2 linked regions of the Homo sapiens genome follow. The protein of the gene in region 2 interacts with the protein of the main gene of each other region in a pairwise test. Each region holds a gene or a part of one and is shown on either strand. Other genes may lie near its edges. The genes, in order: CCDC90B and ARL15.

Region 1 (3,821 bases), on a different chromosome or scaffold from region 2:
TAACAGGAAAATTAGATGACAGCAATTTCTTTCTCTGACAGTCTTACCTGCAAGATAACGAATTGTCTCAAGTTTGTTAGATTCCATCAGTGTTTTTAAGGAAGCAATTTCAGCGTCAATTTTATTACTGGTCTCTGAAATAATACTTTTGGTTTGAGTATCCTGTGGTAAACCAGAATAAGAGAACTTAATTTTGTCCCTATGTATTAAATGGACAAAAGCATTTACATTATAAACCCTCACTTATGGGCTAATTGTGATATAAAAGTCTTAGTTGGGGAAACATTAAAAGCATAGTGGTGTAAAAAAATTTGAAGTGTTCCAAGATGGCCAAAAGGGAACAGCTCCACTCTGCAGCTCCCAGCGTGATCAACGCAGAAGACGGGTGATTTCTGCATTTCCAACTGAGGTACCTGGTTCATCTCATTGGGACTGGTTGGACAGTGGGTGCAGCGCACGGAGGGTGAGCTGAAGCAGGGTGGGGCATTGCCTCACCCTGGAAGCGCAAGGGGTCAGCGGATTTCCCTTTCCTAGCCAAGGGAAGCCATGACAGACTACCTGGAAAAATGGGACACTCCTGCCCAAATACTGCACTTTTCCCAAGGTCTTAGCAACTGGCAGACAAGGAGATTCTCTCCTGTGCCTGGCTCAGCGGGTCCCACGCCCACGGAGCCTTGCTCACTGCTAGCACAGCAGTCTGAAATCGAACTGTGAGGCAGCAGACTGGCTGGGGAAGGGGCATCCGCCATTGCTGAGGCTTGAGTAGGTAAACAAAGTGGCAGGGGAGCTTGAACTGGGCTGAGCCCACCACAGCACAACAATGCCTACTGTCTCTAGACTCCACCTCTGTGGGCAGGGCATAGCTGAACAAAAGGCAGCAGACAACTTCTGCAGACTTAAATGTCCCTGTCTGACAGCTGTGAAGACAGCAGTGGTTCTCTCACGACAGCGTTTGAGCTCTGAGAACGGAGAGACTGCTTCTTCAATTGGGTCCCTGACCCCTGTGTAGCCTAACTGGGAGACATCTTCCAGTAGGGGCTGACACACACCTCATATAGGCGGCTGCACCTCTGGGACAAAGCTTCCAGAGGAAGGATCAGGCAGCAATATTTGCTGTTCTGCAGCCTCTGCTGGTGATACCCAGGTAAACAGGGTCTGGAGTGGACCTCCAGCAAACTCCAACAGACCTGCAGCTGAGGGTCCTGACTGTTAGAAGGAAAACTAACAAACAGAAAGGAATAGCATCAACATCAACAAAAAGGTCATCTACACCAAAACCCCATCTGTAGGTCACCAACATCAAAGACCAGAGGTAGATAAAACAACAAAGATGGGGAAAAACCAGAGCAGAAAAGCTGAAAATTCTAAAAATCATAGTGCCTCTTCTCCTCCAGAGGATTGCAGCTCCTTGCCAGCAATGGCAAGAAGAAAACTGGACTGAGAATGACTGATGAGTTGACAGAAGCAGGCTTCACAAGGTCGGTAATAACAAACTCCTCCAAGGTAAAGGAGGATGTTTGAACCCATTGCAAGGAAGCTAAAAACCTTGAAAAAAGATTAGACGAATGGCTAACTAGAATAAACAGTGTAGAGAAGACCTTAAATGACCTGATGGAGCTGAAAACCATGGCACGAGAACTTCGTGATGCATGCCCAAGCTTCAACAGCTGATACAATCAAGTGGAAGACAGGTACCAGTGACTGAAGATCAAATTAATGAAATAAAGCGAGAAGACAAGGTTAGAGAAAAAAGAGTAAAAAGAAACGAACAAAGCCTCCAAGAAATATGGGACTATGTGAAAAGATCAAATCTACGTTTGATTGGTGTACCTGAAAGTGGGAGAATGGAACCAAGTTGGAAAACACTTCAGGATATTATCCAGGAGAACTTCCCCAACCTAGCAAAGCAGGCCAACATTCAAATTCAGGAAATACAAAGAACATCACAAAGATACTCCTTAAGAAGAGCAACCCCAAGACACATAATTATCAGATTCACCAAGGTTGAAATGAAGGAAAAAGTGTTAAGGGCAGCCAGAAAGAAAGGTCAAGTTACCCACAAAGGGAAGCCCATCAGACTAACAGCGGACCTCTTGGCAGAAACCCTACAAGCCAGAAGAGAGTGGGGGCCAATATTCAACATTCTTATAGAATTTTCAACCCAGAATTTCATATCTAGCCAAACTAAGCCTCATAAGTGAAGGAGAAATAAAATCCTTTACAGACAAGCAAATGCTGAGAGATTTTGTCACCACCAGGCCTGCCCTAAAAGAGCTCCTGAAGGAAGCACTAAACATGGAAAGGAACAACCAGTACCAACCACTGCAAAAACATGCCAAATTGTAAAGACCATCGATGCTATGAAGAAACTGCATCAATTAATGGGCAAAATAACCAGCGAACATCATAATGACAGGATCAAATTCACACATAACAATATTAACCTTAAATATGAATGGACTAAATGCCCCAATTAAAAGACACAGACTGGCAAATTGGATAGAATCAAGACCCATCAGTGTGCTGTACTGAGGAGACCCATCTCACGTGCAAAGATGCACATAGGCTCAAAATAAAGGGATGCAGGAAGATGTACCAAGCAAATGGAAAGCAAAAAAAAAAAAAGCAGGGGTTGCAATCCTAGTCTCTGATAAAACAGACTTTAAACCAACAAAGATCAAAAGAGACAAAGAAGGCCATTACATAATGGTAAAGGGATCAATTCAACAAGAAGAGCTAATTATCCTAAATATATATGCACCCAATACAGGAGCAGCCAAATTCATAAAGCAAGTCCTTAGAAACCGACAAAAAGACTTAGACTCCCACATAATAATAATGGGAGACTTTAACACTCCACTGTCAATATTAGATAGATCAACGAGACAGAAGGTTAACAAGGATATCCAGGACTTGAACTCAGCTCTGCAACAAGCAGACTTAATAGACATCTACAGAACTCTCCAACCCAAATCAACAGAGTATACATTCTTCTCAGCACCACATCACACTTATTCTAAAACTGACCACATAATTGGAAGTAAAGCACTTGCACTCCTCAGCAAATGTAAAAGAACAGAAATCACAACAAACTGTCTCTCAGACCACAGTGCAATCAAATTAGAACTCAAGATTAAGAAACTCACTCAAAACTGCACAACTACATGGAAACTGAACAACCTGCTACTGAATGACTACTGGGTACATAACGAAATGAAGGCAGAAATAAAGATGTTCTTTGAAACCAATGAGAACAAAGACACAACGTACCAGAATCTCTGAGACACATTTAAAACAGTGTGTAGAGGGAAATTTATAGCACTAAATGCCCACAAGAGAAAGCAGGAAAGATCTAAAATCGACACCCTAACATCACAATTAAAAGAACTAGAGAAGCAAGAGCAAACACATTCAAAAGCTAGCAGAAGGCAATAAATAACTTCTGCTGCTTCTTATCTCTTTCAGAGGTAAGAGATAAGAGACACAACAAACCCTTAAAAAAGAGATAAGAGACACAACAAACCCTTAAAAAAACAATCAATGAACCTAGGAGCTGGTTTTTTGAAAAGATCAACAAAATTGATAGACCACTAGCCAGACTAATAAAGAAGAAAAGAGAGAAGAATCAAATAGATGCAACAAAAAATGATAAAGGGGATATCACCACCGATCCCACAGATATAGACTACCATCAGAGAATACTATAAACACCTCTACACAAATAAACTAGAAAATCTAGAATAAATGGATAAATTCCTGGACACATATACCCTCCCAAGACTAAACCAGGAAGAAGTTGAATCTCTAAATAGACCAATAAC
Region 2 (3,821 bases):
AAAGCCACATATGCTCCAGTATACACAAGTTTAGAATCATTTTCAGACCATATCTATGACAACGCTACATTTATAACTATCAGTCTTACTGAAAGATGAATCACAAAAAGAAGGAAAAAGATATTTGCTCTTTACCTAGGAAAGACAGCCAGTCAACACACACAAGGAATACTCAGAAGCAATTAATTGCTAAAAGCTTCCTTTATTCAATGTGATCATCTTTCATTCCTATGGAGGGTAACCATAAGTCATATGTTAGGTTTAAAGATACATTACTTTCAATTATATGATGTCTAAGGAAAACAGATACACAGGTTCATAACTTTAAAAGCAGAAAGAAAAAATCTTTTTTCAGATATTGCAAATAACTTGAATAAAGTTATCTGAAGTTAAAATGGCACTTATATCTATGTTTTATCAATGTGTATATGTATTATGTATATATTACATACACACATTATACTGTCTACATGTAGTAGTGTACACATACATATTACAAGATTTTTTAGAATGAATAGCTGAATAACAATGCATTCTCAGCAAACGACCTTATAATCATAAACTACCCTTCATTACATACTATTATATCTACTCTATAGGCAGAAAAACTGATGCTGAGAAGTTAAAAGATTTACAAACTAAGGTCTTAAAAGCACATTAGGAGACACCATCATTATAATGCTGAAGATCTTCACATTAATGACTTTCTGAATAGATTTTTATTGCTGTTTTTTACTTAATTACTTAATATTATCTATAAGGTATTTTTCAAACTCTATTCTTTAAAAGGTGCTACGTACTTAATGCTGAATGAGGCAACTAAAGTGAGACATGAGCTCTGTCTGTTGAATAATGGGTCCTTGCCTTTCTTTTTTTTAAACTGTGTTTCTAAAATTTGAATAAAAACTCTATTTATATGGTTCTTCTACTTAGGTGTTTAAACTTCAAAGTAAATTATCCAAATTAATCCTATTAACTTATCATAATAAATTGGATTATTCTCATTTTAGAGGTGAGAAGCCAGGCACAAGAATAGGCTATCTGCCGTGGGTCACACACTAAGTGTGAGGGAGGTCTGGAGTTAGAACATGTTATGTCCTTGGCTCCTCATTTATTTTTCAGGCTGAAAGGCAAGATTGTTCATATTAATCATCTCATTCCAAAATCACTTGAGGAAGCATGCAATTTTCTGAAGGAGAGGGGAAATCATATCCTGAAAGTTACAAGTATAAAGGAATACATCAGGAGTTTTGATTTCACTGTACTTACGTTATAATTCACTATAATTTAAGTTTTAAAAACTATTCACATATCTCATTACTGCAGTACCATGAATCACAAGCTCTATTGGCTGAGACTCTATTTGCCTAGAATTAGTCTCATGCTTTTATAGGAGAGATACAAGCTAAGAAATAAAATTAAATGAGGAAGATAAACATTGGTTCCATGTTAAAATGTATTTGATGGCATGGAATTTGCAAGACATCAATTTTCAGCCTAGCAGATTACAGAATAGGATCCATTAATCCTAGTCAACATTGAACACTTCAGAGGAACAAGAACATGACACCTGAAGGCGAGTAATGCATGGAAATACTCACGATATGTTCCTAGAAAAGCTGAAGAAGAGAATGAACTAAGTCCACAGGTTAAAACAACATTAAATAACCAGGCCTTTAGCCCCTCAAAATAGATGAAAAATATAACCAGAAACATCTTTTAACCATTGCTAAATAGCTAGAAAACTCTGTGCTCTCCAAGTAGGGTTAGGTATGTAAACAAGTGCTAACAGATTGATATAGGCTTTCTGCTTCCTATGAAAACTAAGGTTTCATGTTGAAAGCAGCATAACCAGCACATTCCTAATTACATGCATTTTTCCAGGTTCCAACGTGGCAGCAAAAGTACAAGCAAGGAAGACAAAGAGTTGTCATGCTAATGAGACATACCTCTTGTACTGAGCGAGCTGCTGGCTTGTCTTGATGATTGGCCAATATTAAAAAGGGTAAAGTGCATAACTGTGGATGCTGAAGAGCTGAGTGCAGCTCATTTCTAGCAGCTTCTAAATCATCCTCTGAAGAGGCACTGTCTAATACAAATATTACCCCTTGAGATCCTTGGTAGTAGCGGCTCCAGTATTTCCGGATGTTATCAGCCCCTGTCAAAAACAAAACAAATTTTCGTTTTAAAAAGAGCTTTCAGCAACTGAAAAATGTTCCCAACAGTAATTCCTACTGGAAACCAATGTACCTTTTAAAAATTAAGTGCTAAACTCTGTGGTATGGATTAAAACAGGAATTTAGAAAAGGCAGAAATCACAGTGGATGGGAACAAAGAAGGCAGTAGAGCCAATAGGTAGATTTGGCCTTGAAGGAAGACACAAAATCCAAGCCATTCTTAATGACTTTTATATAAAAATGTGTGTGAGAGAACCAGGATAAATACTTCCTAGACTTAAACTCAAAAGGATATTTTCAGACTTTAATCATCTCAAATGAACTACACACTCTCTAAAAATTGAGACTGAACCTGCCTCAGAGAGCTGCATGGCCTAGACATCCACCAACGCTTCTTTCCAAACCATTAACATTAGCTTGGTGATACTTTTTTAACAGAACTGCTTGCTGATCAGGACAGCCTTGTTTAATTTCACCTAGGGAGTTATTAGCACAATAGCTTTATGTGTCAAAGTGCTAAAGTTTGTGAAAAACTAAAATCATGGCCTTTGATACAATTACATGATTCTGTTTGGCTTCATAACCCATGAGGAAAAATAACAGACAACAGGTGTACACTTATGATCTCAATGAGATAAGATGTTTATTAAAACAAACAAATAAACAAACAAACAAACATATGGAGAGGCTGGGCGCGGTGGTTCACACCTGTAATCTCAGTACTTTTGGAGGCCAAGGCAGGTGAATCACCTGAGGTCAGGAGTTCAAGACCAGCCTGGCCAACATGGTGAAACCCCATCTCTACTAAAAATACAAAAATTAGCCGGGCGTGGCGGCGGGTGCCTGTAATCCCAGCTACTTGGGAAGCTAAGGCTGAGGCAGGAGGATCGCTTGAACCCGGGAGGTGGAGGTTGCAGTGAGCCAAGATCGCGCCACTGCACTCCAGCCTGGGCAACACAGCAAGGCTCCATCTCAAGAAAAAAAAAAAAAAAAGCAACACCACATGGAGAGTCTCATCAGCCAAGGCATGTCATGTAGTATTCCTCTTTGTATTTCCATTATATAGCACAACATCTAACTCAAAGTTCAGTACTGGAATAATGAAAATTGAGGGAATGAGGGAGTAAAATTATATACTAATTAAGCTTTACAAATTTGAGACTAGAACAAACTCTAGAGATGATTTAGTCCAACTCTCTGAGGAAACTGAGGCAGACAGAGGTAAAGTAAGTGATCCCTTGTCATGTATCTAATAAATCACAAAATTGGGATTTGCATGAGTTAGCAGACAACCTGCCCAGGGAAGGCATAGGCACTTCCCATTACATCATGGTGACTGTTTTCATCACTTTCATTCAAGAATAGGAGGGGCAATATGTGTGCATGTGTAGGAAAGGGGTGCTACTGGTTATATAACGACAATTAGATTTCAAGGAATTTCACCAATTTATTGCATATGATCAAGTCCTAACCAGTTAATAACTGTATTTCAGTCATCCACTGAACATCTAGCTCCTATGTTTGACATATTGTTATGTGTTAGGGAAACAGTGGGGACTGCAGTTGGTGTGCCCTGGCTGGCAAGGGTCACCTGTTTGCTTCTCTTCCCAACTCTGTGCTCAGTGACATCCTGTTGGTAGCTTG

Evidence for each region.
Region 1: the proteins of ARL15 (region 2) and CCDC90B interact in a two-hybrid assay, tested with the Homo sapiens proteins (one large-scale study listed by BioGRID and IntAct).

Annotation. Positions count from the first base shown.
Region 1 is NC_000011.10:83,265,818-83,269,638, forward strand, and holds part of CCDC90B (coiled-coil domain-containing protein 90B, mitochondrial isoform 1 precursor), read right to left. Parts: intron 163-3,821; coding exon 48-162; intron 1-47.
Region 2 is NC_000005.10:54,111,253-54,115,073, forward strand, and holds part of ARL15 (ADP-ribosylation factor-like protein 15), read right to left. Parts: intron 2,159-3,821; coding exon 1,950-2,158; coding exon of another isoform or gene 1,863-1,949; exon of another isoform or gene 183-1,862; intron 1-182.